3 separate regions of the Homo sapiens genome follow, and all the other regions are linked to region 1. The links come from fine-mapping of genetic effects on gene expression. A gene starts in region 1. Each other region holds a variant in brackets. All regions are shown on one strand. Distances are between the middles of the regions. Region 1 holds the start of GNG7 (G protein subunit gamma 7). Region 2 overlaps GNG7 (G protein subunit gamma 7). Region 3 holds the start of LOC124904789.

Region 1 (8,175 bases):
ATAAAAGGCCCACCTAGAAAGGAGTAGCCTTTTTTTTTTTTTTTTTTTGAGACAGAGTCTCACTCTGTGGCCCAGGCTGGAGTGCAGTGGTGCAATCTCAGCTCACTGCAACCTCTGCCTCCTGGGTTCAGGTGATTCTCCTGCCTCAGCCCCCCAAGTAGCTGGGATTACAGGCGTGTGCTACCACGCCCAGTTAGTTTTTGTATTTTTAGTACAGATGGGGTTTCACCATGTTGGCCAGGATGGTCTTGAATTCCTGACCTCAAGTGATCCACCCACTTCGGCCTCCCAAAGTGCTGAGATTACAGGCGTGAGCCACCGCACCCAGCCATAAGTAGGCATTTCTAATGTTTTCTAAAAGCAGTGAGACCTTACTTCTCCCCTCTCCGAATGACAGCACTAAATGACTTAAAAGCAATCCTCAATTCTGAATGACCCCACTTCCTGCACATCAAAGGGGAGATGAGGTCGTTAAAGGAGAAAATAAATCAGTTTTGTCTATAACAAGGGTTCCACACTGGAGTATCTCTGTCCCTACAGGACGCTGGGTGATATCCGGAGACATCTGTGGTTGTCACAATGCGGGGAGCTCCTGGTGTGGAGTGGGTGGAGGTCAGGGATGCTGCTCGGCACCCTGCAGTGCCCAGAAGGCCCCACCCCAGAGGACAATCAGATCCCAAATGTCCGCAGCGCTGGGATAGAGAGACCCAGACGCACCCCATGAACTGAAGTTGTAAACTCAAAATTTCAAGCGTATAATCACAGCTCGATGTGGTTCCTTACGGGGTGCCCCTAATCAGAATGACCCAGGCAGCCTTCTCTTGAACAGGTGCATCTGTTACTTAACGAGCTTTGAGACTCTCCTGCCACCAGGTGTGGGCAAAGTCTTCTTTCTTTTCAGTTTTTTACTCACTTTTAATAATATGGAAACAGGCTCCATATTTGAGACTCTGTCTCAACATAATAATAATAATAACAATAATAATAAGACATATTTTTGTTGTTGTTGCAGTCCTTTTTTTTTTTTTCCTTTATTTTTTTGAGGCAGAGTCTCTCTCTGTTGCCCAGGCTGGAGTGCAATGGCGTGATCTTGGCTCACTGCAACCTCCACCTCCTGGGTTCAAGCGATTCTCCTGCTTCAGCCTCCCAAGTAGCTGGGATTACAGGCAAACGCCACTATGCCCAGCTAATTTTTGATATTTTTAGTAGAGACAGGTTTTCGCTATATTGGCCAGGCTGGTCTCAAACTCCTGACCTCAGGTGATCCACCCGCCTCGGCCTCCCAAAGCGCGGGGATTACAGGCATGAGCCACCACAACCAGCCATGCAGGTTATTTTTTAAAGCTTCTGGGGGTGACCCTGATGTGTGCTCCTAAGGTTGCAGGACTAGAGTCAAGTTCCAGTCACTTCCTTTCCTCTCCTCTGTGACAACCCAGTCATCCCACTCCTCCATCTCCAAACCCACCAAAGAAAAAAACTGGATTGAGTCCATTATTCTCCATGCTTCAGGTACCCTCACTATATGCTAGGAAATAGTCCATGCATACATCCCGTAATTCGACCCTGAGAGGCACATGCTACTGTTTTTATTATTCCCGCTTTGCAGGGGAGTAAACAACACCTCCAAAAGATGATACAGCCAAATCCGCAGCGAGAGGCTGGGTCGGAACACACACAGGCGCACCTCCCAGAGGCCCCCGACACTCCATCAAGGCAAGATCGCAGCATCCCACGACGGGAACAAGTTTGTGAACTTGGCATTTGCCTCGCTGACACCTAGCAACCGTGTGAAGACGCTTAGCTGGGGATCCGCTGCCTCTGTTCATCAAGCCTGTCTTCCACCGCCCACCTCCCAACCCCTAGCAACCCCCGCTCCCCAGGAAAAATAAAGTGCCACCCACGTCGCTCAATAGCACCGTCCCAAAAACTCCCACTTTAGTTCCTGAAAAATTCAGTCACCGACAGGAGCCTTTCTCCTTCCTGAAGCGTTCTCCTTGGCACCCTATATCCTAGAAATAAACCTCAAAAAGTATTCCGAACTCCCGTCTCCTTCAACTCACTGTTCCCCAGGGGGTTCTGCCCCGTGCCCAGTTCTAGAGCAAACAATTAACATCTCCCCCAAAAGTAGAGGGGTGAGTCCTCTCCAAATTCCTTTTAACTGGATCCTACCTGAGACACCTCCCCACACCCCGTTTTCCTCCTGATTAGTCAATGTCTAGCAAAACACCTGCCCCCAGGTGTCTCCAGCCTGGGACCTTACCCCCACCTCCCTTCTCACTAACTCACCCCAACTTCCTTCTCCCTGAACCCCCTTCCACCCCACACACTCACAAGCTCCCCATTTCCCCTGATAGCCCCCAGACCCTTTCTGGAACAAGCCTGACCCCCACCTGTATGCTCCAGCCACTCCCTGGCTCACCCCAGCTTTGTCCTTCTGCCCCTTTTCAGCTAACCCTAACCCCTGGGCCGTCAATCACACCCCCCCATCTTCACCAACCCCATTCCTCAGTCCTCTCCCCAGACAACCTCAACATCTAATTCCCTCTGCAGCCCCCTCTCCAATGAACCCCACTTCAAACTCCATCCCCAGCCCCCTCTCCAGCTCCCTGCAAACCTCAACCCCACTCCCAGCTCCCTCTTCAAAGAAGCTGCACCCTTGACTCAACCCCTGTTCCCCGCTCCAATTAACCTCAACCCCCAACACCATCCCCAGCGTCCTCCCCAGCTAACTCAGATTTCCAATTCCACTTCCAGCCCCCTCCCCAGCTAACCTCGACCTACAATTCCAGCCCCCTCCCCAGCTAGCTTGGACCTCCAATCCCACTCCAAGCCCCCTCGGCAGCTAACCTCGACCTGCGACTCTAGCCCCCTCCCCAGCAAACTCAAGACCTCCAATTCCACCACCAGCCCCTTCCTAGCTAACCTGGACCTGCAATTCCAGACCCCTCCCCAGCCAACTCAGACCTCCAATCCCGCTCCAAGCTCCCTCCCCAGCTAACCTCGACCTGCAACTCCAGTCCCCTCCCCAGATAACTCAGACCTCCAGTCTCACCCCCAGCCCCCTCCTCAGCTAACTCAGACCTCCAATCCCACCTCCAGCCCCCTCCCCAGCTAACCTGGACCTGCAACTCCAGCCTCCTCCCCAGCTGGCCCTGATTTCTAAGTGGAGTCCCAATGCCCAGACCCAATCCTTCCCCAGCTAACCTCGATCTGCACCCCCTGCCCCGTCCCCAGCTAACCTCGACCTGCAACTCCCGCCCCCTCCCCAGCTAGCCCTGAGCCCCAAGTGCAGTCCCAATCCCCAACCCCAGCCCCTCCCCAGCTAACTTCGACCCCCTAAGCGCAGCCCCGTCCCCAATTCCAACCCCAGCCTCCAGTTGCAGCCCGGGTCCCCAGACCCAGCCCCCCTCCTCAGCCGACTCCGACCCCCAACTCGGTCCGCAGCCGAATCCGAGCTGTCCCAGTCCCCTCTCCGGGACGCCGGCCGCGCCCTCACTTCCCCTGGCCCGGTTCGCGGGCGCCCTTACCTGCGCTCGGGCCCCGCGGCCGCCTCAGCCCCGCCGCGCAGCCGAACCCTCCGCCCCGGCCCGCGAGCGCTCGCTCCCCTCTGCGGGGGCGGGGCCGACACTCGGGGGGCGGGCCCTGGCGTCCCGGCAAGGCCAATCGCGAGCCCCGGCTGCGGGAGGCCGGAGCGGGGGCGGGGCGCGGGGCAGGCAGCGGGGTAGGCTGCGCCCAGGAGAGTGGGGCGGGGCTCCGGGCGCGGGCGGGGCCGGGGGCGGGGCGAAGAGCGGCTTTCCAGGGTGACTTCGTGACGTCAGGAAGGCGCGAGTAGTTTCGCGAGTTCGAATCCCGCGCTAGGTGAGCTGGTTCGAATCCTGCATGCCAGCTCCGGGGGCTCATTTGCTGGGGAAGAATGTCAGTGATCATAACTGCTGCACCGCTTTCTTGAAGACTTTATAGGCTCCCTCTCGTGGGACCCTCCGCATAAGGCCAGAAGGCGAGATTACTATCCACATTTTACAGAGGTGGAAACTGGGTCTCAGAAAGGTGAAACCTAAGGTCATTTGCCCAAGCCTGTCTCATCATTTCCAAGATTTCTCAGTTTCCTAACTCATGGCCCTGGATCCACAAATTCCTGAGCCCCAACACAGATGGAATGAACCAGAATCCTATAGGGAACTGGACCCTGAAATCTGTGTTTTGTTTAGTTTTCGTTTTGTTTTTGAGACAGGGTATCACTCAATTGCCGTGGCTGGACTGCAGTGGTGCAGTCATAGCTCACTGCAGCTTTGAAGTCCCAGGCTCAAGCAGTCCTTCCACCTCAGCCTTCCGGGTAGCTGGGGCCACAGGCACGCACCACCACATCCAGCTAATTTTTGTATTATTAGTAGAGACAGGGTTTCACCGTTTTGGCCAGGCTGGTCTCCAACTCCTGACCTCAGGTGATCCACCTTTCTTGGCCTCCCATAGTGCTGGGATTACAGGCGTGAGCCACCGTGCCTGGCCCTGGCTAATTTTTTTTTGTTAGAGATGGGGTCTTGCTATGTTGCCCAAACTGGTCTTGAACTCCTGGGCTCAAGTGATTCTCCTGCCTCTGCCTCCCAAAATGCTTGGATTACAGGCCTGGAATCTTCATTTTCCACAAGCTCCCTTGGGAATATTGGAAAACACTTTGTATGTCTCCAAAAGCAGTACACAGCCCTGGAAGGAAGATGGAGCCACCATATTCTGTGACCTCAGGGATTTCATCAGGCGCTGACACTGTGTGTCCTTGCCGCCCCACCTGAGCCCTGGGATTGGAGCTGCTGGCCAAAATCCAAGATAAACTTCCCCAGGGTTCCTGTCATCCCTGCAAGAACCTCCCTGCTCATCCTCTGGACTCCAGTGGCCTGCCCTGCAGGGCACAGAGAAACCTCCATCTCCCTGCTTGCCCTCCTCCAGGCTCTCCCCAGCTGGCATCCCCCAAGAGGAATGACTGTCTAGATAGAGCTTGGGAAGGGCACGGTGGCTCACGACTGTATTCCCAGCACTTTGGGAGGCTGAAGCGGGAGGATCGCTTGAGCCCAGGAGTTCAAGACCAGCCTGGCAACATACTGAGACCGCAACTCTACAAAAAAATTAAAATATTAGCCAGGCCTGGCGGCGCACACCAGTAGTCCCAGCTACTTCGGAGGCGAAAGCAGGAGGATCGCTTGAGCTTAGGAGGTTGAGGCTGCAGTGAGCTTTGATCACACCACTGCACTCCAGCCTGGGCGATAGAGTGAGACTCTGTCTCAAAAAAAAAAAAAAAAAGTGTTAAATACACAATGCAATATGATTCGGCCATAACAAAGAATAAAACCCTGTCATTTGCAGCAAAATGGATGGGACTGGAGGTCATTATATTAAGTGAAAAAGTGAAATAAGCCAGACACAGGAAGACAAATAGGGCATGTTGTCACTGATACGTGGGAACCAGAGAGTTGATCTCATGGAGGTAGAGAGTAGAATGATCAATACCAGAGGCTGGAAAGTTGTGTAGGTTGAGTGGGGGGGAAATGAAAAGAGGTGAGTTATGAGTACAAACATTCAGTTAGACAGAAGGAATACATTCTAATGTTTGATAGCAGAATAGGATGTATTCTGCTATCAAATATAGTATTAGAATAAATTCTAATGTTTGATAGCAGAATAGGGTGACTGTAGTTAGCAACAATGTATTGTACATTTCAAAATAGTTAGAATAATGGTGGCTTACGCCTCTAATCCAAACACTTTGGGAAGCCAAGGTAGGAGAATCCCTTGAGGGCAGGAGTTCGAGACCAGCTTGGGCAACATAGCGAGGCTTCATCTCTATTTAATTATTATTATTATTATTATTTTCTTTTTTGTGTGTGTGAGATGGAATTTCGCTCTTGTTGCCCAGGCTGGCATGCAATGACGTGACGTCAGCTCACCACAACCTCCGCCTCCCGGGTTCAAGCGATTCTCCTGCCTCAGCCTCCTGAGTAGCTGGGACTACAGGAACGTCCCACCACGCCAAGCTTATTTTTTAGTACAGACGGGGTTTCACCGTGTTAGCCAGAATGGGCTCGATCTCCGGACCTCGTGATCTGCCCATCTCGGCCTCCCAAAGTGCTGGGATTACAGGCGCCCACCCGGACACAGTGGCTCACGCCTGTAATCCCAGCACTTTGGGAGGCCAAGGCGGGTGGATCACCTGAGGTCAGGAGTTTGAGACCAGCCTGACCAACATGGAGAAACCCCGTCTCTACTGAAAATACAAAATTAGCCGGGTGTGGTGGCACATGCCTGTAATCCCAGCTACTCGGGAGGCTGAGGCAGGAGAATGGCTTGAACCCAGGAGGCAGAGGTTGTGGTGAGCCGAGGTCGTGCCATTGCACTCCAGCCTGGGCAACAAGAGCGAAGTTCTGTCTCAAAAAAAAAAAAAAGCTAGAAGAGAGTCCTTGAATTGTTCCCAACATATAGAAATGAGAAATAGTCTAAGTTATGAACACCCCAAATACCCAAACATGATCATTATATATTTTATGCATATAACAAATACCACATGTACCCCATACATAGATACAAGTATTTGTAACAATTTTGAAAAAGTGTCATGTGAAACCATGTTGGAGCCTAAGACAAATGGAAAAGGTGGCATGTCCCAATAGACATATTTTCACATATATTTTCCCATCAACTTCCCTTTGGTTTTTTGTTTGTTTGTTGTTTATTTGTTTTTTGTTTGTTTGTTTTGAGATGGAGTCTCACTCTTGTCGTCAAGGCTAAAGTACAGTGATGTGATCTCGGCTCACTGTAAACTCCATCTCCCAGGTTCAAGCTATTCTCCTGCCTTAGCCTCCCGAGTAGCTGGGCTTACAGGCGCCCACCATCATGTCCAGCTAACTTTTGTATTTTTAATAGAGACGGAGTTTCACCATGTTGGCCAGCCTGGTCTCAAACTACTGACCTCAGGTGATCCACCAACCTCGGCCTCCCAAAGTGCTGGGATTACAGGCATGAGCCATTGCGCCCGGCCCCTTTCTTTTGTTTTTTGGGTTTTTGTTGTTGTTGATGATGATGTTGTTTGGACACAGGGTCTTGCTCTGTCGCCCGGGCTGGAGTGCAGTGATTCTATCACAGCTCACTGCAGCCTTGATCTCCCAGGCTCAAGTAATCCTCCCACCTCAGCCTCCTGAGAAGCTGGGACCACAGATGCATGCCACCATGCCTAGCTAATTTTTACATTTTTTTTTTTTAGAGATGGGATCTTGCTATGTTGCCCAGGCTGGTCTCGAACTCCTGGGCTCAAGTGATCCTCCCGCCTCTGCCTTGTTTATTTTCTTTCTTTCTTTCTTTCCTTTTATCTGAGACAGGGTCTCACTCTCTCATCCAGGGTTGAGGGCAGTGGCTCGATCATTGCTCACTGCAGCCTCCAACTCCTGGGCTCCAGCGATCCTCCTGTCTCGGCCTCCTGAGTAGCTGGGACTGCAGGCACCCATTGGGATTACAGGCTTGAAGCCACCTCACCTGGCCCAATTCCCCTTTTTCAAATTTAGCAGTATCCCTGGTCAAAAAAAGAAACATTAAAAATTAAATTAAAATTGTAAATATTGAGATCACTGTGGATTCATACGCAGTTGTAAGACATAGCATAGAAGGAGGGCCAGTACCCTCTGCCCAGCTTCGCCCAATGGCAAACTCTTGCAAAACTGCAGTGAAATGTCATGAACGGGATATTAACATTGTTAAGCTTAAGATAGAGGATGTTGGCCAGGCGCGGTGGCTCACGCCTGTAATCCCAGCACTTTGGGAGGCCGAGGCGGGCGGATCACAAGGTCAGGAGATCGAGACCAGCCTGACCAACATGGAGAAACCCCGTCTCTACTAAAAATACAAAATTAGCCAGGCGTGGTGGCGCATGCCTGTAATCCCAGCTACTCAGGAGGCTGAGGCAGGAGAATCACCTAAACCTGGGAGGTGGAGATTGCAGTGAGCCGAGATCGCATCATTGTACTGCAGCCTAGGCAACAAGAGCAAAACTCCTTCTCAAAAGAAAGAAAGAAACAAACAAACAAAAAAAGGCAGAGGATGTTTCCATCCCTGCGAGGATCCCTCCTGGTGCCTTCTAAGAGCCACACCCACCTTCCTCCCATCCCCAAACCCCATCCCTAACCTCTGACCATCACC
Region 2 (8,175 bases), 26 kb before region 1:
TCTCAAAAAAAAAACAAAACAAAACAAAACAAAACAAAAAAAAACCCAGCAGGTCATCAAAACCAATGAGTCTGAGAAGTGTCCCAGCAGAGTGTAAGGAGATGTCGGGAGTCAATGGCATGTGGGTTCCTGGAAAAAACAAGAAAATGGAAATAAAGACCGGGCGCCGTGGCTCACGCCTGTAATCCCAGCACTTTGGGAGGCCGAGGCGGGCGGCTCACCTGAGGTCAGGAATTCGAGACCAGCCTGGCCAACATGGTGAACCCCTGCCTCTATTAAAAATACAAAAATTAGCCGTGCAGGGTGGCAGGCACCTGAAATCCCAGCTACTTGGGAGGCTGAGGCAGGAGGATCATTTGAACCCAGGAGGTGGAGGTTGCAGTGAGCCAAGATCACACCACTGGCACTCCAGCCTGGGTGAAAGAGCGAGACTCCATCTAAAAAAAAAAAAAAAGAAAGAAAGAAAGAAAGAAAAATAAAATGTAAATAAAGTGTGGAGTTGAGTTCGTGATAATGTATGGATACTGGTCTTTTTAGAAAATTTCTTTCTTTCTTTTTTTAGAGAGAGGGCCTTGTACTGCTTTTGTATATTTTAAACATACAATTGTGTATATTTCCAATATATTTCAGAGTTTTCTTAGGATACATTTGTGATAATTTGTTACACAGAATTAGCTAACTAATATAGGCTGTTTCCAAAATTCAAAACTACCCTAAAAGAAATCTGAGGCCAGGGACCGTGGCTCACGCCTGTAATCCCAGCACTTTGGGAGGCCAAGGTGGGCGGATCACCCAAGGTCAGGAGTTTGAGACCAGCCTGGCCAACGTGGTGAAACCCCATCTCCACTAAAAATATAAAAACTAGCCAGGTGTAGTGGCACCTTGCCTATAATCCCAGCTACTCCAGAGGCTGAGGCAAAAGAATTGCCTGAACCTGGGAGCCAGAGGTTGCGGTGAGCCGAGATCACCCCACTGCACTCTAGCCTGAGCAACAGAGTGAGACTCCATCTCAAAAACAAAACAAACAAGAAAAAAGAATCTGAAATATAATGGAAATACACACAATTGTATGTTTGAAATATACAAAAGCAGTACAATCCACTCTTGAAGGGAATCAGAATCGTCACACTGCTGGGAAAAGGGCAAGGTCTCCAAAGGTGACTGGTGTTTTTGTTTTTTGTTTTTGTTTTGTTTTTTTTTGAGACAGAGTCTTGTTCCGTTGCCTAGGCTGGAGTGCAGTGGTGCAATCTCAGCTCGCTGCAACCTCCACCTCCTGGGCTCAAGCGATCCTCCTGCCTCAACCTCCCAAGTAGCTGGGATTACAGGCGCCCACAACCATGCCCGGCTAATTTTTGCATTTTTAGTAGAGACGAGTTTTTACCATGTTGGCCAGGCTGGTCTCGAACTCCTGACCTCAGGTGATCCACCCGCCTTGGCCTCCCACAGTGCTGGGATTACAGGCGTGAGCTACTGCGTCTGGCCTGCAAGGTGACTGTTTTAAAACACAGAGGACACCTGCTGAGATGCAAAGTCAGGGAGTGTTGAAGAAAACAGAGATCTCCTTATGTGATGGTCGTAACTCGCATTTCCACCCTCGACAGCGCCGACTCCATCGGGCAGCTTTTCTACATAGTCAAGTTTGAAAACTGTGCCATTGTACGTCACCAGAAACGGACTCGGTTAGAAAACAATGCTCTTTCGTAATGTATACCGTACTACTTTTCCTAAAACGGAACTGTCATAACGCCTCCCCCTCTGGCTGAGACTAGAATAGATAAAAATCCAGATTTTCACACACTCGGGACTGGTAATGTTTTAACACATGGAAAACGCGACAGGGTTACAGACTGCTTTAGCTTCTCCAAACAAATCCGCAACGGCGCCAAGCACTCCTAACAGTTGGACGTGTTCATAAATGAACCCAAACAGATCACGTTCTCGGAGACGGATGCACGCCAGAAATTCCTGTCGTGCCCCTGAAGAACTAACAGGTCTCTCTCTGCAACGGTGGACGACTGGTCAAACCCTGGAACCAGCCAGGAACAGCAGCAAGTGCACGGGCTCGGGAATGGGAATCTGGCTTTATGGAACCTCCAGGCTCAAGGGGACACCAGGAAGGGACAGCTTCGTGACCAAGCCCGGTGTGACCCACCAAAAATCTGCAACCACGAAGACCAGGAAATGCCAGCAGTGCCGAGCAGGAGAGGTCGCTTGACGGTAAAGAAGCAGGGAGCGTTATTTAGCAAACCAGGCTGGTTAAAGAGTAGAGAATATCAGATGTCGCGGCCCCTCTGCAGAGGACAGTTCTGAAGGACAGCGATGACCTAAATTGGCTCCTATGAGGGACTGCTGGGGGAAATATTTCCCCAGGATCCTATAAGATACAAAGAAAAACATATGAAAACAGAAAAGATATTCCCGACACTTGGGGGTCTCAATGGGGCGGGGGAGGTCTGAGGACATCTGTGGTTTTCACGATTGGGGGGAGCTCCTGGTATGGAGTGGGTGGAGGCCAGGGACACTGCTCAGCACCCTGCAGTGCCCAGGATGGCCCCTCCCCAGAGAATGATCCAGCCCCAATGTCCACAGCACCAGGGGGAAGAGACTCAAAGTTAATTATTTGGAAGAAAATATTGTTGAGCCAGATGCCTCAGAATGGGACCTTATTTGGAAACAGGGTTTCTGCAGATGGACTTATTATTAAGATGTGGTTGTGCTGGATTAAGATGAGCCCTAAATCCAATAACTGATGTCCTTATAAGACGAGGGAAATTTGGACACAGACCCACACAGGGAAGGGGGCCGTGTGAGGATGGAGGCAGAGACTGGAGCGATGTCACCAGCCCAGGGGCGCCAAGAACCGCCGGCCACTTGCCAGATGCTGGAAGAGGCAGGAAGGATCCTCCCCGGGAGCTTCTGGGCCGGGAACGGCCCTGCCCACACCTTCGTCTCAGACTTCTGGCTTCTAGAACTGCCAGAAAATCCATTTCTGTGGTTTTGAGCCATGCAGGTTGAAGTCATTTTCCATGGGCGCCCTCAAATATCCAAACTTCACCCCACAGAGACCCTCCCCTAGGCACCCACATCCTGGCATGTTCAGACACCCTCCTCGTGAACATGCACAGCCCCCAAGGCACCAGATAGACATTGATTTCCATCTAGAAGTGTCCGTCAAACCCTCAGCGATATATCTCTGCCGCCCAGGCTAGAGTGCAGTGGCACAGTCTCAGCTCACTGCAACCTCCACCGCCTGGCTCAAGCGATCCTCCCACCTCAGCCTCCCAAGGAACTGGGACCACAGGCGCGCACCATCATGCTTGCCTAATTTTTGTTTTCGCTTTCTGTAGAGATGGGGTTTCACCATGTT[G/T]CCCAAGCTGGTGTCAAACTCCCAGATTCAAGTGATCCTCCCGCCTCGGCCTCCCATAGTCCTGGGATTACAGGTGTGAGGCATCGCGCCCAGCCTCTTTGGTGGTTTTCAGGAACAGCTAGTTAGTTATTCTGCAGATGGAGGTTCAGGAGCTTGCACCACTTCCTAGACCCGGCTGGAGGAGTTGGGTGTAATTTTCAGCCGGGCGGGTGCAAGACTCAAAGAGATGTGTGGCAGAGAGAAGCTGTTCAGACAGCTTCTGGGGTTGCCAGGAAGAAACAAGCCACTTGCTCCGATCTGCACATTCCCTCCCTGTCCAGGGCTGATTTCCACCCAGGCAGGACTCCCGATTCCCAGAGAATCTCAAAGCAAGGCATTCTCCTGGCCGTGATCCGGCTCTCAGCTCTAAAGGGACTCCATATCTTTACTGCAGACCCAAATCTGTGTCACCACAGAGGAAAAACGGCCGCTTAATTACACTTGCATATATGCTCGCAAGAATTCTTCCAGGGAGCAGGATCTGGGAACGTCCTCTGGAGACAGGGCCTTCCAGGAGACGCTGAGCTCGGTGTTGGAGCATGGAGGCTGAATCTAATCCATCAACAGGATGCCACAGGGGAGCAGAGAATTCCATTTTTTTTTTTTTGCTTCAATTCCTTTCTATACAACCGTGGTTCTCAACCAGGGGTCCTTCTGGTCCCCAGGGGATGCTAGGTGGTGTCTGGGGGCATTTGTGACTGTTATGACTCAGGGATGCTCCTGGCGTGGAGTGGGTGGAGGCCAGGGATGCTGATCAGAACCTTGCAGTGGCCAGGACAACCCCACCCCAGAGAACGACCCAGCCCTGAATGCCAAGGGGGAGAGACTCTGCCTTAATTATTTGGAAAAATATTGTATCTGCTCCCTGTTGACACCAGACACTAGAAAAAATTCCCGATGGGGTGGATGGCAGAAACCAAGGGGGGCCCCAGCTCCTGCGATTCTCCTCCTCTCTCCCTCCCCACTCAGGGTGTGGATTACAATGTGTGCAGCCTCCTGGAACCTCAGGAGGACAGAGGATCATGAGACACAGAGTTTCTTGGGGATCTGTGGAATCCCCTAACCCCCGGGGGTCTCACCTGGGGGTGATTCTGCCCCCCATGGGGCACTGGGCAATGTCTGGGGACATCTTTGGTTGTCACAACTCGGGGTGTCCCTGGCATAGAGTGGGTGGAGGCCAGGGACGCTGCTCAGCACCCTACAGTGCCCAGGATGGCCCCACCTCAGAGAACGATCTGGCCCCAAGGTCCACAGTGACAGAGAGTGATAACCGCTGCCATAATCTATAGGACTGACCATAGCCACATGCATATGGTCACACAAACATGAGTGTGACTGTCCCTCTGACTCAAAGGACAAAGCCAGTCCCAACCTTTCTAACCCTGCCACCTGTGCTGACCACCAGTGGCCTCTGTGTGGATGTTAGTTAGGGTTCAGCAGCCTTAGGAAAACAGAACACCAGGCATCCAGACCTTCCACTGTGGCCCTGAGTGGAAGAGGAGGTGGCGGTGGCCGACGCCAACACTGTCACAGCAAGAAACAAGAGAGTGGGTGTGACTGTGGTCACTTCCATCTCAGGGCACATGCTACATTGAGGAAGTAAAACCTGGGGGGAGCGAGATATACAAGAAGTGAAAGGTGACTTGTAGAATGTTCTGGAATCTTCCAGAAGCTTCTGGAAACTTCCAGAATTTTCTGAAATATAGTAGGTATTGTGGCATAGCAAGGCTTTGGATTCAGAAGCTGCTGGGCTTGGGCACGGAGTCAAAAAAGTAACAGAGGAAAAGCCACGGAATGCAAACTTCCAGGGATGACATGGTTGCCACACAGTGGGCAGGTGGGTCACACCCACTGTACACAGGTCACACTTGGCTCTTTGAACTCAGTCACCTATTATGGGTGGAGGAACCAAATCCTGGGATGGGGTAATAAATGCATACGGTTTCAGTTTCCCCATCCACAACACAGGGAGAAGAATCAGATAAGGTGTCCAGTCTCGGAGGGTCCTGGGCAGCAGGCAGCGCCTCCAAGATCATCACCTCCAACCCTGATTCTGCCAAGCCCCAGCCTGGTAACTACTTCTCTCAAGGGGTCCCAGCTCTCAGAGCTAGGAGTGGCCTTCAACGCCAGGTCTACACCCCATGCCAACAGAATCCCTTCCCTGACCTTTGCACCAGCCAACCCATCCTCCGTCATGCAGCCTTCGACGATCGGAAACCAACAGCTTCTCATGACGGTCCCTCCGATTTCCAGACAAGCCTGATTCTTAAGCCAGCCCAGCCAAGCTACAGCTCCTATCCCATCTCCCCAAGAACAGACTTCATCGTTTTCTGAATTTGGTCCACGCCCATGGTGTCCGTGAGGAAAAATAACAACATAAGTAACATATAGTACAATGCTAATTTTTTGAGACGGGATCTTGCTGTTGCCCAGGCTGGAATGCAGTGGTGCAATCATAGCTCACTGCAGCCTCAACTTCCTAGGCTTCCAAGCAATCCTCCTGCCTCAGCCTCCCAAGCAGCTGGGACCACAGGTGTGCACCACCATATCTGGCTAATTTTTAATAAATTTTGTAGAGATAGAGTCTCACTATGTTGCTCAGGCTGGTCTCGAACTCCAGGGCTCAAGCAATCCTCCCACCTAAGCCTCCCAAAGTGCTGGAATTACAGGTGTGAGCCACCACACCCAGCCAATACTAATATTTATACATAATATATTGAATAATATTAGCAGTGATTCCAGCAATAACAGTGATAACCAGGACCACCACCCATCCAGGTCACAGCCTCGTAGTCCATCCCAATCTTTTCAATGACCCTAGGGAGTGATTCCTATCCTGTCTGACACACAAGGAAACAGAAAGGTTCCATGTTTTCTTCAAAATTCACACAGAAAGAAAGTCACATGGTGGCTAAGTAGGCATTCTAAATCCAATGCCTCACCATGCCTACATTCCAGAAAACTCTAGAAGGCTCTGGGAGTTTCTAGAAGGTTCCAGAAGATTCCAGAACCCTCCATGATTCGCCACCTTTCACTTTTTACATATCCTATTCCCCCAGGTCCCACTTCCTCAAAGCAGGACAGAATTTTCAACCCCTTGCATTCCCATCTGCATCTTCACCTTACTCATTGTATTAACTCCAGGCACCAGGTAGCACCTTCCTAAATTACCTGGGCTTGGCAAGACCTAAATCAAAGACATGACCTGCTCAGTAGTCCCAGATGTGAAGAAACTCAAAATCCAATGCCAGAATCCCTTAAAACAGAACCAGTCAGTGTCCACAGCTCTATTAGGCTTGACCCACAGTGGAGAAAGATGAGAAACCCACAGGGAGAAAAACAGGACCGTCTTCTTACAGTCTAAGACTGTCAGCCAGGCACGGCAGCTCACGCCTGTAACCCCAGCATCTTGGGAGACCGAGGAGGGAGGATCGCTTAAGCCCAGGAGTTCGAGCAGCCTGGGCATCATAGTAAGACCTTGTCTCTTTTTTTTTTTTTTTTTTTTTGAGACAGAGTCTCGCTCTGTTGCCCAGGCTGGAGTGCAGTTGTGCGATCTCGGCTCACCACAACCTCCACCTCCCAGGTTCAAGTGATTCTCTCTGCCTTAGCCTCCCCGAGTAACTGGGATAACAGGCACCCGCCACCATGCCTGGCCAATTTTAGTATTTTTAGTAGAGATGTGGTTTCACCATCTTGGCCAGGCTGGTCTCAAACTCCTGACCTCAGGTGATCCACCCGCCTCGGTCTCCCAAAGTGCTGGGATTACAGGCATGAGCCACCTTGCCCAGCCACCTGTCTCTATTTTTTAAAAAATTAAAACATTTTAAAATTAAAAATTAAAAGCTCTGAAAAGTGACCACATAGACTAACAGTGGGTTTTTTAGTAAAATACACTTAACACAAAATTTACAATTTTTTTTTTTTTTTTTTTTTGAGATGGAGTTTCCCTCTTGTTGCCCAGGCTGGAATGCAATGGTGAGATCTCAGCCCACTGCAACCTCCGCCTCCTGGGTTCAAGAGATTCTCCTGCCTCAGCCTCCTAAGTAGCTAGGATTACAGGCATGCATCACCACGCCTGGCTAATTTTGTATTTTAGTAGAGGCGGGGTTTCTCCATGTTGGTCAGGCTGGTCTTGAACTCCCGACTTCATTCGTTTCTTTTTTGAGACAGGGTCTTGCTCTGTTGCTCAGGCTGGAGTGCGGTGGTGTGATCACAGCTCACTGCAACCTTCGTCTCCCGAGCTCGCATGAGGGTCCCCATGTCCTACCTCCCCGTGAGCCCTTGTGATTGTTTGTTGTTCTGGTTTTTTAATTCTAGCCATCTTACTGGGCGTGAAGTGGTATCTCACCATGGCTCTGATTTGCATTTCCCTGAGGACTGACGCGGAGCATGTTTTGAAGTGAAACCGACAGTTTTTGTTTCTTTGATCCTCCTGTGTAACCCTCCCAAGTAGCTGGGACTACAGGTGTGCCCCAGCAGGCCTGGCTAATTTTTATTTTTATTTTTTTTGTAGCAACCAACTTTTTTTATTTTATTGTTTTTGAGACGGAGTCTTGCTCTGTTGCCCAGGCTGGAATGCAGTGGCACGATCTCGGCTCACTGCAACCTCCACCTCCCAGGTTCAAGCGATTCTCCTGCCTCAGCCTCCCGAGTAGCTGGGACTACAGGCGCCCGCCACCACGCCCGGCTAATTTTTTGTCCTTTTAGTAGAGATGGGGTTTCACCATATTAGTCAGGATGGCTTCGATCTCCTGACCTCATGATCCGCC
Region 3 (8,175 bases), 190 kb before region 1:
ACGGCCAGGGAGAGGTGCCAGACATAAAAGGCCACACAATACATGATCCCATTTATGTGAACTGCGAAGGACAGGCTAATCCACCGAGACAGTAAAGGGATTCACGGTGGCCTGCGGCTGGGGAGGGGTGGAGAGTGACTGCTGATGGGGATGGGATGTCTTTGGGGTGATGACAGTATTCTGGAACTACACAGAGGTGATGGTTACACAACTCCTACATTTTACATTTTATTTAATTAATTAATTAATTTATTTATTTCTGAGACGGGGTCTTGCTCTTGTTGCCCAGGCTGGAGTGCAGTGGTGCGATCTCGGCTCACTGCAACCTCCACCTCCCAGGTTCAAGCGATTCTCCTGCCTCAACCTCCTGAGTAGCTGGGATTACAGGTGCCCGCCATCACTCCCGGCTAATTTTTGTATTTTTAATAGAGACGGGCTTTCACCATGTTGGCCAGGCTGGTCTCAAGCTCCTGACATCAGGTGATCCACCTGCCTCAGCCTCCCAAAGTGCTGGGATAGCTGTCACGAGCCACTGCGCCCAGCCGCCAAAACACTTTCAGGGAAGGTTGTACCCGCGTAGAGGTCCTTTGGCAGCATGTGACAGCTTGTATCCTCCTGTGTTGCTGCCAGCATAGAGCCCAAAAGCTCTTCTTAATCTTTCTTTGTTTTGTTTTGTTTTGAGACAGAGTCTCACTCTTGTTTCCCAGGCTAGAGTGCAGTGGTGCGATCTCGGCTCACTGCAACCTCTGCCTTCTGGGTTCAAGCAACTCTCCTGCCTCAGCCTCCCAAGCAGCTGGGATTACAGGCACCCGCCACCATACTCAGCTAATTTTTATATTTTTAGTAGAGACAGGGTTTCACTGTGTTGCCCAGGCTGGTGTTGAACTCCTGACCTCAGATGATCCGCCCACCTCAGCCTCCCAAAGTGCTGGGATTACAGGTGTGAACCATTGAGCCCAGCCTTCCTCCTAGATTTTCTTTTCTTTTCTTTTTTTTTGAGACACAGTCTCACTCTGTTGCCCAGGCTGGAGTGCAGTGGCGCAATCTCGGCTCACTGCAACCTCCGCCTCCTGGGTTCAAGTGATTCTCCCGCCTCAGCCTCCCGAGTAGCTGGGACTACAGGAGCCCACCACCACGCCCAGCTAATTTTTTTTTTTGTATTTTTAGTAGAGACAAGGTTTCACCATGTTGGCCAGGCTGGTCTCGAACACCTGACCTCATGATCCGCCCTCCTCAGCCTTCCAAAGTGCTGGGATTGCAGGTGTGAGCCACCGCGCCCGGCCTTTTTTTTTTTTTTGAGATGGAGTCTTGATCTGTTGCCCAGGCTGGAGTGCAGTGGCGTGATCTTGGTTCACTGCAGCCTTTGCCTCTTGGGTTCAAGCAATTCTCCTGCCTCATCCTCTTGAGGAGCTGGGATTATAATCACTTGCCATCACGGCCAGCTAATTTTTATAGTTTTAGCAGAGACGTGGTTTCACCGTGTTGACCAGGCTGGTCTCGAACTCCTGACCTCAGGTGACCCGCCCGCCTCGGGCTTCCAAAGTGCTGGGATTCCAGGCCTGAGCCACCGCGCCCGGCCCCTCCTAGATGTTCTAAGTACAAATCCGAAAGCCCACTGGGCCTGAACGTCCCTGGTTTGTGGTGCTGCCTCCAGGGGTCCCCTCCTGTTACCTCTTCCCTGGGCCGGTGAAGGGAGGGTGGACGGGATGGTGTGGGGCCGCGGGTCCCCATGCCTGGAGCCAAGCCTGGGGCATCTGCTTGCATGCTAGGAGCTCCCTCCCCAGCAAGGCCCGGGCCAGAGAGAGAAGGAACAGCCCAGAGCCAGGAGAAAAGGGAGAGTGAGGCTTTTTATTGTGTATGAATTCACGTGGTATCGACAACTCCACACAATATTAAAACACTGCGAGAAAGTGGGTGCGGCACACCTGGAATTTTAAAAAAGTCAGAAATAAAAACAACCAGACATCCCAATGCAGATGGCATAGAACCTGCTAGAACCACAGGCGGCGGCTGGAAACAGGAGACAGGTCTTTACGAAGGTTAGATGGGCAGCGGTTCCGTGGACAGAGGAGGAGGCGCGGCTGGCCGGCATATGGCTTCTGTGCAGAGGGCCTGGCCTCAGGCCGTGGACTTTTTAATAAGTGACCCCTTGAGGAAGGGCGTGGTGGCTCCACCTCCACCCGGAAGCCCCCCCGGGTCACTCACGGGCGGACAGGTGTGTGACGGCCCTCTCCTACCTGCCCCAGAACTTGGGCAGGACGGGCTGTTAACTTGGAGATGGATGCGTGGCCTGGAGGCCTAGCGTTGCGCCTCGGACACGGTGGCCGGCCCGTCAAAGGGACCACGCAGAAGGAGGGAAACAGGAGCACCTTCCGCCCTGGCCCAGCCGCCCCGTTTATGTCCCCAGAGGCCAGAGGTCGCAGCTGAGCTATCTGTGCTTGGCCTGGGGTTACCCCTGGGGAGGGTGGGAGAGGGGTGAGGGTTCTGGCTCCTTCCTGGAGAGAGGAGGGCAGGGGAGGCGGAGCTGGTCCGGGAAGGTGCCCAGGTGGGTCACAACAGGGTCGGGGCCTGGCCCGCTGTGGCCCTTCACCTGGCTACTGGTGTCTCGCTCAGCAGCGGGGAAGGCCCGTGGGAGACCCAGGCTACAGAAGGAGAAACGGCCTTCTCTCTCCCACCCGACGCTGCCTTGTGTGTGTGCGTGGGTGGGGGTGAGTGTCCTTAACTCTCTTTTCCCCTGGCGTAGCTGAGAGAGGCTTGTCCCCCCAAGGCTAGAGCTGCTGCTGCCACCCCCGCCCGCCAGCTCCCCGTCTGGAGGTGCACGCGCGCTCCTGGAAACGCCCATAAAACATGCGTTCACCCCAGGGATTCCCGGCAGAAAAGCACATGTGGCGGTCGGTGTGTGCACTCGGGTGCCACGTCTGCAAAGGTATTTTCCACAGTGTGGTCACTGAAGTCTACTCAAGAAAAAAAAAAGTGGAGAATTTTTTTTTTAATCCCCCAAGCTAGAAAGAAACCCACAGGCTTCTGGCAATGGCCACCTCCCTGGGGTCCGGGAGATGGTGGGGTCTGGACAGCTCAGGGAACCCAAGGCCCTGTGGACAGTGAAGGAGAGGCCAGCCTGTCCTTCCCCTCCCCGAGCCTCAGTTTACCTGGAACGCTCAGCCCGTTTAACCCCACCATCTGCACCAGCCTAGGAGCCCCGGCTGCCTGGGGCTGCGTCTCTGCAGCAGCCTCCGTTCCCTGCTGGCATTTCTGGGGTCACATTGTGAGGACACACCAGTGGGGCCGGGCTTGGCACAGCTGTGCCCCCTCCTCCCTCTGCCCTGGCAGCGGGGGCTCGGGGATTAAGGCCTCTTTTAAGGAAAAACGGGGTGGGGTGTGTTTGTTCCCAGTTACCAAGATGGCTTGTTGGAAAGGGTGGAGGCAGGCGGGCTCTCCCTGCCTGGGGTCCTCCCAGGGTCTCTGGAACAGGCTTTTGTCCCTTCCTGCCATTCCTGCTATGCGTGGTGGGGACGCCCACACCCCAAACCCTGCCGGCTCCCAGCCCAACCACAGGAGGCTGCAGTCTCCGGGAGCCTCTGGGGCTCTCCCGGGCCAACAGCAGGTTTGGCGGGTAGGGCTCCCCGAAGCCCCAGCCCTCCCGGACCTGCCGTAGAGAGCTGGGTGCCGGGGGTGGGGAGCCCGGCTGTGGCCTGTGGGAGCTGCCCGAGGTTGAGGAGTGGAGGTCACTCCCCCGACACCTGCACACACACCCGGAGCCCTCTAGCCTTGGCGAGGTGGGAACCCTGGCAGTCACCAGCTCAGGAAGTGAGCCAAGCAGGGATCCCCGCCTCACGGGCCTGCACGGAGGACCTGGGCGGCCGTCCAGGAACCCTCTCGGCACGGGTTCTTAGACGCCTGTCTCCACTGGGGCCGGAGGGACAGGACTAGGCTAGTTTTATTCTACTACTTGCTTCTAGGCCAGCCCCGTGGAGGGGGTCGGGGCGGCCAGGCCTCCTGCGATCAGGGCTGCGTGGGGTCCATCTCAGGTGTGGCCGCAGGTGATGCCGGCAGGCCCTGGAAGATGTGGCTGCACCTGCTCCCGTCCGTGCCGCAGAGGAGGACGCAGTCATCTTTCAGAAGCCTCCCCCCGACCCCATGACATCTTCGATTTCCACTTGCCGCTGGGAGGAGTGGCCCATCCTGCGTCTAAGGCATCTCCCGGCCTCAGACAGCCGTCCTGGGTTGCACGGGGGTGGAAAAGCAAAAAGATCGGGTTCGAGCGACAGGGTAACGTTTTGAGCGGACGTTTTGATCTCCGGGACAACGTCTCACCTCCCAGAGTCCTTCAGAGTCACTCCAAGATCATGGAACAATTTTGTACACACAGCAGCACAGGGTAGCCCCACCCGCCCTGCCGCGGCTCCCCAGCCTGCATTTTCTGTTTGAAAAACGTCTATGGTGGATGCCAGAGGGTAGGACAACCTGGAAGAGCCAAGGATGGTCAAAGCCTCTCCCAGCCACGCGGATGCCTCATGCTTAAAACACACTGGGCGCGGTGGCTCATGCCTGTAATCCCAGCACTTTGGGAGGCCGAGGTGGGCGGATCCCGAGGTCAGGAGTTTGAGAGCGGCCTGGCCAATACGGTGAAACCCCGTCTCTACTAAAAATACAACAATTAGCCGGGCGTAGTGGCACACGCCTGTAGTCTCAGCTACTCGGGAGGCTGAGGCAGGAGAATCGCTTGAACCGGGGAGGCAGAGGTTGCGGTGAGCTGAAATCATGCAGCTGCACTCCAGCCTGGGTAACAAGAATGAAACTCCATCTCAAAAAAAGAAAAAAAAAAAAAATCCAAAAACATGATGGGCCGGGCCGGTGACGGCTTCCCTGGGGCAAGTCCCGAAAACCCATTTCTGGCACAGAGGGGACCCTGCAGAAAGGACCCATGGCTAACATCATGCAGGGGAGTCACACTTGGCAACTTTTCATAGACGAAGCCCCCTCC[A/C]GACCCCCACACTCCATCGTGCATTCATTGCAGGATCGTGCAGTTTAGCGACGGGTTCAACCATCACAATCCGAGTTTAGCCGTATGGAGTAACAATTTTTTAAATAAAGAGATATTTCCAAAAAACTTCATGATGTCACCTCCCGCCCCCCATCTCAATTTTACCTCTACTTAAAAACAACACAAAGCATTCCAGTGACCCTATGAAGTCTTTTTACCAATGGCCAATTCTCCCGGAACTATTGCCACCGGGCGAAGTCACCTCCCTTTCCCCCTCGGCGCCGGTCCACAATTGAAACGGCAATCGAGAGTTTTAAAAAATTGTTACCCCATCGCTGGGGGATTTCAGTTATTCCGAACGGGAAGTGGCCGTAAAGCCTCCATCCCTTTTGGCCCAAACTGAGAGGGCCATGGGGTCGGACCTGAAAATTCATCTCCACCTACAAGGTCCATTCTACCCCATCCGGGCGGTGGGAACGCCTTTTTTGGCGGGGAGAGGGGGGATTTCTTTTGGAATTAAAGGTTTTGGGGACTTGAGATGTTTTGTTTGAGCTAATTACTGAATGATGCCCTGCCTGAGACAGAGACAGAGACAGAGAGAGAGAGAGAGAAAGAGAGAGAGAGAGAGAGAACATATGAGAACACAGTTATAAAATAATACAAGGTTTCTTGTCCTTAAAGGGGTTCTCCGAGGCAGGGACTCCGACCAGCAGGGGGTCGTTCCGGGCATGTTGCTCACAGTAGCTCATGAGGTCAGACGCCGCTTTGGAGACCTGTGTTTGAGCACAAGGAGGAGACAGAGGAGACATAAGAAGAGGCTGGCACACCCGGGTTCACAGCAGCACCATTCCCAAGAGCCACAGGCGGAAACAGCTCAGGAGCCCATTGATGGGGGCGTGGGCAAACAGTGCGGCCCGTCCACACGCTGGAATATTACTCAGCCATGAAAAGGAGTGAGGCTCTGACATAGGCCACAACGTGGATGCATCTCAAGGGCCTCATGCTCAGTGAGAGATGCCAGACACAGAAGGCCACACAGTGTGTGATCCCATTTCTTTCTTTTTTTTTTTTGAGACAGAGACTCTATTTGTCGCCCAGGCTCTAGTGCAGTGGCACGATCTCGGCTCACTGCAACCTCCACCTCGCGGGTTCAAGTGATTCTCCTGCCTCAGCCTCCCGAGTAGCTGGGATTACCTTCATGCACCACCACACCCAGCTAATTTTTGTATTTTTAGTAGAGACAGGGTTTCACCATGTTGATCAGGCTGGTCTCGAACTCCTGACCTCGCGATATGCCTGCCTCAGCCTCCCACAGTGCTGGGATTACAGGTGTGAGCCACTGCGCCCGGCCGTGTGATCCCATTTCTATGAAATGTCCAGGACAGGCCTATCCACAGAGACAGGAAGGGGATGCGTGGGTGCCGGTGCTGGGGAGTGATGGCTGATGGGGGACAGGGTTTCCTTTTGGGGTGATGGAATGTCCTGGAATAAACGTGATTGGATGCACAGCATTGTGACTATATTAAATATCACTAGTGGTAAACTTTATATGTGTCTTGGCCAGGTGCGGTGGCTCACACCTGTAATCCCAACATGTTGGGAGGCGGAGGCGGGAGGATCACTTGAGCCCAGGAGTTTGAGACCAGCCTAGGCAACACAGTGAGGCCCTATCTCTACAAAAAATACAAAAATGAGCCAGGCATAGTGATGTGGGCATCTGTAGTCCCAGCTAACTGGGGGGCTGAGGCTGGAGGATTGCTTGAGCCTGGGAGGTTAAGGCTGCAGTGAGTCAAGATTACACCATTGCACTCCAGCCTGGGGGATGGAGCAAGACCCTGTCTCAATTAAGATAAATAAACAAATAAATAAATTTATGTGTGTCTTTTCCCAAAATTAAAAAAAGAAAAATGCAGTGGTGTGATCACTGCAATCTCTTGCTCCCCGGGTTCAAGCAATTCTCCTGCCTCAGCCTCCTGAGTAGCTGGGACTACAGGTGCCTGCCACCACGCCCAGCTAATTTTTGTATTTTTAGTAGAGACGGGTTTCAGCATGTTGGCCAGGCTGGTCTCAAACTCCTAACTTCAAGTGATCCACCTGCCTTAGCCTCCCAAAGTGCTGGGATTACAGGCGTGAGCCACGGCACCTGGCCTAAAAAATATTTTTTTAAAAAAGAAAAGGCTGAGCTTCCTTCAGCAAGCGTTGCCAGATTTTGAACACAAAGGGTCAGGGACAGATGGACCCCGTTTTCGGAGTCCAAGACCTCATTCTCACCCCAAGGAAGGAAGGTCCTGATAGGAAAACGCTGCCTGCACATTTGATGAGCTTGAGGGAGGTTTCACGGTGACACCCGGCCAGGGGGCTGGGCCCGGTGAGGACGAGATAAGCCCGTCTCCATGTTTCTCTTGCAGCCTGAACCCCCTGATGACTCCAACCCTCTGAGGGGCTGATGCTTCCGGTCACAGGAGGGACCCCCTGCCCCGGGCTGCTGCCAGCCCGCCCCAGGCTACACGCCCGTCTCTCCTGGCCATGCCTTTGGGGGTGCCGCTGCCACTCCCCGCTTAGCTCACCCCAGCAGGGCTGGGGCTGGGGTGTCCGGTGTCCTGGGTCAGGCTACACGGGGACACGTCCATCTGGCCCTGGATCTCATCCCGTAACCGGTAACTGTGTCTCTGTGGGACTCAGCGACCTTTCTCTCCTTGCTTTCTTTCCTGGAAGGCGAGAGGGCGATCACAGGGGGAGGATTAGATGTGGCAGAGGTGAGGGGATGATCCGAGAAGGATCGCAGTGTCGCTTCACGGAGGTGCCTTTGTTATCTGTTTTTGAGACAGGGTCTCGCTCTGTCCCCCAGGCTGGAATGCAGTGGTGCTATCATAGCTCAATGCAGCCTCCACCTCCTGGGCTCAAGTGATTCTCCCGCCTCAGCTGGGAGTACCTGAGTAGCTGGGACTACGGGAGTGAGCCACTACACCTGGCCATAATTTTCATTTTTATTATTTATTTATTTTTTTGAGACAGAGTCTCACTCTGTCAGCCAGGCTGGAGTGCAGTGGCGTGATCTCGGCTCACTGCAACCTCCGCCCCCTGGGTCCAAGCAATTCTCCCACCTCAGCCTCCCAAGTGGCTGGGACTCCAGGCGCACGCCACCACGCCAGGGTAATTTTTGTATTTTTAGTAGAGACGGGGTTTCACCA

Evidence for each region.
Region 2: its variant is fine-mapped to the expression of GNG7 in whole blood (INTERVAL, PIP above 0.99).
Region 3: its variant is fine-mapped to the expression of GNG7 in cerebellar hemisphere (GTEx, PIP above 0.99). The same link has a PIP of 0.9 or more in cerebellum.

Annotation. Positions count from the first base shown.
Region 1 is chr19:2,699,119-2,707,293 of GRCh38, forward strand. It overlaps GNG7 (G protein subunit gamma 7), which reads right to left and starts at 3,576. Exons shown (of 5, transcript NM_052847.3): 1 at 3,528-3,576. RefSeq lists a silencer at 3,472-3,861.
Region 2 is chr19:2,673,254-2,681,428 of GRCh38, forward strand. All of the region lies in intron 1 of GNG7 (G protein subunit gamma 7), which reads right to left. Among named protein-coding and RNA genes, the nearest start is that of GNG7, 25 kb to the right of the region's middle. RefSeq lists a silencer at 4,829-4,977. The variant G/T (reference allele first, on the strand shown) is at 3,368.
Region 3 is chr19:2,509,391-2,517,565 of GRCh38, forward strand. GNG7 (G protein subunit gamma 7) reads right to left here. Exons shown (of 5, transcript NM_052847.3): 5 at 1,829-5,757. The coding sequence ends at 5,632. It overlaps LOC124904789, which reads right to left and starts at 4,181. Exons shown (of 3, transcript XM_047439801.1): 1 at 4,135-4,181; 2 at 3,551-3,701; 3 at 2,450-2,944. The coding sequence starts at 4,181. The coding sequence ends at 2,450. RefSeq lists enhancers at 2,171-2,310, 2,367-2,877, 2,991-3,070 and a silencer at 2,461-2,640. The variant A/C (reference allele first, on the strand shown) is at 4,985.